Regions from separate parts of the Homo sapiens genome. Here region 1 is linked to region 2. The links come from fine-mapping of genetic effects on gene expression. Tissue or cell type: whole blood. Region 2 holds a variant in brackets; the other region holds the start of a gene. All regions are shown on one strand. Distances are between the middles of the regions.

Region 1 (2,911 bases), 42 kb before region 2:
TGAGCTGAGATTGCGCCACTGCACTCCAGCCTGGGTGATAGAGTGAGACTCCATTTCAAAATAAATAAATAAATAGAAAGAAAACCAAAACACAAAACCAAGAATGATTCTAGACTAAAGGTGTTTAAAAAGACATGACAATTAAATGCAACGGATGATCCTTAATGGTAGACTAATTGGGAAAAAAAGAAAATCAGCGACAAGGGATATTACTGGGATATTTTGCAAAATTGAATATATATGGCCTGTATGTTACAGATGATTACATTGTATTAGTATGAAAGTTTCTTGGAGTGATCATGGAATTCTGATTATGTGGGAGATTATCTTTATTCTTAGTAGATATGTACTGAAATATTTAGGGATAAAGGGTAACAGTGTCTACAAAAACTCAAGTGATTCAGCAAAATAAACCATACACACAGACACATAGATAGCAAATGTGGCAGAATGTTAAAAATTGGTGAATATGGGTTAATTTGGCTGTTAATTGTATTTTCCTTGTAACTTTTCTATAGGGTTTGATATTTTTTTGAATATAAAAAGTTAAGGACTCTTCAAAATCCAAGCAGAGTTTCCCGTTCTGATTTATCATCCTTAGTGTAAGCCACCTTGTCAAAGATACAGTTGTGTGACCAATGAGGGAGTTAATAGTCAGAATGCGTATCTTTCAAAAACTATTGTAATTATTTACATAAATAAGAGAACATTGCAGTTATCTTTTTGTGTCACTATCAACTTGATTCACATCTTTTGTAGGCAGCCTGATAAGGTGGTTTGTCGACGGCCAGGCCTGAATTTCGATCCTGGCTGGTTAAACTTTTTAACCTCGTTGGGACTCAGTTTCCTCATTGTAGGATGCAGAAAATAACTACTTGGTGTGATTGTTGTTTTGAATTGTTATACACCTGGTGTTTACGGAAGCGAGTTTCAATTCATGTGCAAAACCTTTGTCCTACCTTGAATGCTATCTGTATCTTTTCCTTCATTAAACTCATGCAATCCTGGAGGGCACTTAGAGGTGGGAGAGAAAATGACTTCTCCAAGGTCACACCGCTAATCGCGGACCCAGGTTTCCCAGCTTTTGGTCGTGTGCCCTTTCCACGCCTGCCGGAGAGGAGGAAGCGGCGCTCATGGGGTTGCAAGGATGTAGAGGAGCAAAGGGAGAGAAGAGGCCGCGGGAAGAGAGGTGGTGCGAGACCCGCGGAGGCGCCGGCCAAGGACGGGCGCATGGAGCAGCGGGCGGCGCGACCGGCCGGGGTGCGGAGGGGAGAGGCCGCGGCGGGGAGGGAGGGTCCCGCGGGTCCGGTGCCCGGGAGAGGCGGGCGGCCTGGGCCAGCCGCAGGATCGCAGGAGGCGGAGGCCCGGGCCGCGGGCTGGGGTGGGGGAGGCCGAGGGCCAGCGCGGCCATGGGCGGCGGCCACTTCTGCACAGGTGGGTGGGGCGGGGGCGCGGGGCGCTGGGCGCGCGGCGCTGGGGTCCCGACCCCCGGGGCCGGCGGGTGGGGGCGGGGCGGGGGCGGGGCCGGACGGGGGCGGGTCTTGCTGGGTCCCTGCTGGAGCGGCGGCGGCGGCGGCGGCGCAGGCGCGGTTCTCGTCTCCTCCCGGCCGGCGGAGCGAGTGGAGGCTGCAGCCCAGCTCGTCTCGGCGCCCGCGTCGCCGTCGCGAAGCCCCCCGCCCCGCTTCCGCCGCGTCGGAATGAGCTCCCGGAAAGGTGAGTGGCCCGCGGCGCGCCCTCTCCCCGCCACGCGGCCAGCCCGGGCGGGCGGCCCGACCGTTAATGTGTGTCTTCTCTTCCCCAGTGCTGGCCATTCAGGCCCGAAAGCGGAGGCCGAAAAGAGAGAAACATCCGAAAAAGTGAGTCCACGCTGCGCCTGTCCCCGTTCCCCACCCCCGCCCCGTCGGGGGCGCCCGCGGCCGCGCAGGGGAAAGTTGTCCGGGTCCCCGGGCCGGCGGGCGGGCTGGTCCCCCGGGACGCTGGCGCTCGGCTCCTGCCCCCGGCGGGCGGCCCGGGGGGAGGGGCGGCGGCGGGGGAGGGGCGCGCGGGCCGCGGCCGGTTCCCTAGCATCACGGAGCCTCGACCCCGCGACCTCCCGCCCCGGGTCGCCACCGGCCGGCGGGCGGGAGGCCGGCGGAAAGGCGCCGGGCAGGGCGTGCGCACCCGTCCCTTGCCCGCGAGCTGGCCCGGGGGTCGCGGCCCTTTCCGGAAGGGGCCCCGGCGTCTGCCGCTGGGCTCCGGCCCGCCCGCTGCGGGAGTGCAGCGGCTGCGTTGCTCCCACCTGAGCCGCGGGCCGAGGAGGCGGAGGGGCCGAGTGTGCGGGAGGGCGTGTGTCTCGCCTCCCCTTCCTCCCCGGCCCCCGCCTGTCGGCCTTTCTGCTGAGAACCTAAGCTGGTTGTCAAGTGGTTTGCCTCGGGCGTGTTCCTGGCGCGAGTTCAGCCCCGAGACCTGTGCGTTTCGGCTCTCGGGTTTGGATTCGAAACTTTCCGCTCGGGTTGAGCGTGACTTGGGTGCGCTGCGGGCGCCGGGGTCGCGGGCTGCGCAGGGCGGTGGGCGTGTGCGCGGGAGCCGGTCGGAGTGGAAAACGCGCCCGTGGCGGCCACCTCCAGCCTGGCCGCTCACCCGAGCAGGGGGGCCGCTGCCCAAGAACCCTTTCCTGGAGAGCTGCTCCGAGACCGCACAGCGCCGCCGCGTCTTCTCCTTTTCCACTCCTCTCTCCTAATTTTTTTGATTTACCAGCGTTCGACATCGTTATCTCTTCCTCTAGATTAATTGCTTCGCTCTTTTGAGCAAGAATACTCTGTGTGGCATCTTTGGTACTGTGGGGAACGAGAATCCAGCATTATCTTTAATAAAATCCAGAAACATTTTTGGTTGTTTCCTTTGAGGGGTACGTCGCAGCACGCTCACTTTT
Region 2 (2,911 bases):
CATTTTATACCAAATAGTGGCTTATTAAGTTTGACTGCTGTGCGCGGTGACTCACACCTGTAATCCCAGCACTTTGGGAAGTCGAGGTGGGTGGATCACCTGATGTCAGGAGTTCCAGACCAGTCTGACCAACATGGAGAAACCCCGTTTCTATTAACAATACAGAATTGGCCGGGCGTGGTGGCCCATGCCTGTAATCCCAGCTACTGAGGAGGCTGAGGCATGAGAATCGCTTGAACCCGGGAGGCGGAGGTTGCAGTGAGATCGCGCCATTGCACTCCAGCCTGGGGAACAAGAGCGAAACTCCATCTCAAAAAAAAAAAAAAAAAAAAAAAAAGTTTGCCAAGCAGCCATATTCTCATTAATATTAATGGTATATGTCACTGGTATGGACTAATTTGAAAACATTTTGATTTCTGTTTTCAAGGAAATGTGCAATTTTGATACAGCTGTCTTTCATGAGTAGTTGAGACATTTGAGATGTCTTTGTTAATGTAATTTAGAATTAATTGTGCAAGCTACCGCTTTTCTTTCTTTTTTTTTTTTTTTGAGACGGAGTCTCGCCCTGTCACCCAGGCTGGAGTGTAGTGGTGCCATCTCAGCTCACTGCAACCTCTGCCTCCTGGGTTCAAGCAATTCTCCTGCTTCAGCTTTCCAAGTAGCTGGGACCACAAGTTTGTGCCACCATGCCTGGCTAATTTTTAAAATTTTTTTGCAGAGATGGGGGTCTTGCCAGGCTGCCCAGGCAAGTCTCAAACTCCTGGACTCAAGCGATCCTCCCGCCTCAGTCTCCCAAAGTGCTGGGAGTATAGGCATGGGCCGTCATGCCCAGCCATAATTCTTCCTCCTCCTCCCCCTCCCCCTCATTCTTCGGCTGAATATCTCACTGTAGTTACACATATTTATAAGCCAGTCTGTGGTCAATATGGTGGCTCACTCCTGTGATCCCAGCACTTTGAGAGGGTGAGGTGGGAGGATCACTTGAGTCCAGGAATTTGAGACCAGCTTGGGCTAGTGAGACCTGTCTCTACAAAAATTAAAGAAAAAATTAGCCAGGCATGGTGGCCTGTAATCCCAGCACTTTGGGAGACTGAAGCCGGAGGATTGCTTGAGTCCAGGAGTTTAAGACCAGCCTGGGCAACATAGCAAGACCCTGTCTCTACTAAATTAAATAATTAGCCGGGCGCGGTGGCACATGTCTGTAGTCCCAGCTACTTAGAAGGCTGAGTAGAGGTGGGAGGATTGCTTGAGCCCAGAGGTGGAGGTTTCAGTGAGCCATGATCATGCCCACTGCACTTCAGCCTGGGTGACAGAATGAAACCTTAATCTTAAAAAAAAAAAAAGCCAGTCTATCTCATAGCCAA[G/A]TAAAAGATAAATTAATTTATATTAATTTTATGGTTCCCGGGCAGTGTGCAATATTTTATTTCTTCATGTAGAATTTTTACTGTTTAGTAAGTCCTTGATTTTCAGGGACCCAGAAAACCGATACCCAAGCAGTTTGGTGCTGCTTAAATCATGCAGTGAATAAAGTTTTTTTTTTTTTTTTTTAACAAATGAGAAGCAGCAAAGACTGGAAGCTCCATCAGTAACTAGAGTTGTGAAATGGAATGTGGCTTTTGTGGGTTTGTTGTTGTTGCTTGTTTTTTTTGAGATGGAGTCTTGCGCTGTCACCCAGGCTAGAGTGCAGTGGTGCGATCTTGGCTCACTGCAACCTCCTCTGCCTGCTGGGGTTCAATCAGTTCTTCTGCCTCAGCCTTCCGAGTAGCTGGGACTACAGGCGCACACCACCATGCCTGGCTAATTTTTGTGTTTTTAGTAGAGACAGGGTTTCACCATATTGGCCAGGCTGGTCTTGAACTCCTGACCTCGTGATCCGCCCGCCTTGCCCTCCTAAAGTGCTGGGATTATAGGCATGAGCCACTGCACCTGGCCTTGTGTTGCTTTTGACAGTGCTGGAGACTTACAGTTTATTGACCTTCATATAACAGTTGTTTGAGTACCCTCTGTGTTCCAGTCACCATGCAGAGGTGACAAGCAGGAGCTGTTTTCTGCATCATAGAGAGTTATGTGATAATCAGTTAAGTGCAGAATCCTTCACTTTCTAGGAAAGGAAATACTGCAGTTGTGAATGCAGTTGAGAATGGTTTGAAGCCAATTAGTAAATTGGAATAGTTACTGATGATGAAATACTTACCTCCAGGAATTTTTTAAAAAACTTTAAAACCTTGGTAAAGGCATTTGGTGATTATTTTGCTGGATTAGAAAACCTTAGAAGTTTTTACAGCTTTGATATAAAGTACACCTGTAGAAAGACTGTCACCTGGTACTTCCCTAAAAGACAGCAGTAAAATTTTGCACTCTTTTTTAAAAGAAAGAAGTTAAGTTTCATCTTAATGTCTAGTCAGCAGAGAGAGGGAAGTATGTAACGTTTTAAACCTTTGCTACCGAACAGAACTTTCTGTGATTATGGAAACATTCTGTATCTGTGATGTCCAGTATCATAGCTGAAAGCTGGCCCTTGGCCATGTGAAGTGTGACTAGTGTGACTGAGGAACCGGTTTTTAATTTTATTTAACTCTAATTTAAATTTAAATAGCTACATGGGGCTGATGGCTATGATAATGGAAAGAGCAGATGTAGAACAACATAGGCCCAAGAGCTCACAGACCATGTCTGTTTTGGACACCAATTTCTTGCCCTACTTGTATTCCAAACACATTGACATGTTCATGTGTAAAATAAATATGAATGAATATATAGATGAACGAGTTTGAGAAGTTTTCATCCTTTGAAAGATAAGCTGTTTCAGTTGTCTTTCATGTTATTCCCTGTAATAACTTACAATTGTTACATAGCACATATAATGTGTTTTCCTTATAATGAATTTTTTTTCGTTTCTTGCGATATGCTT

Evidence for each region. PIP is the estimated chance that this variant, and not a neighbour inherited with it, causes the effect.
Region 1: it holds the start of SRPK2, and the variant in region 2 is fine-mapped to the expression of SRPK2 in whole blood (TOPMed, PIP above 0.99).

The regions. Positions count from the first base shown.
Region 1 is chr7:105,387,593-105,390,503 of GRCh38, reverse strand. SRPK2 (SRSF protein kinase 2) reads left to right here and starts at 1,583. Exons shown (of 16, transcript NM_182692.3): 1 at 1,583-1,713; 2 at 1,802-1,856. The coding sequence starts at 1,698. RefSeq lists silencers at 1,213-1,382, 1,483-1,532, 1,543-1,612, 1,643-1,772, 2,113-2,232 and 1 more.
Region 2 is chr7:105,345,495-105,348,405 of GRCh38, reverse strand. The region is part of intron 2 of SRPK2 (SRSF protein kinase 2); the gene reads left to right. Among named protein-coding and RNA genes, the nearest start is that of SRPK2, 42 kb to the left of the region's middle. The variant G/A (reference allele first, on the strand shown) is at 1,365.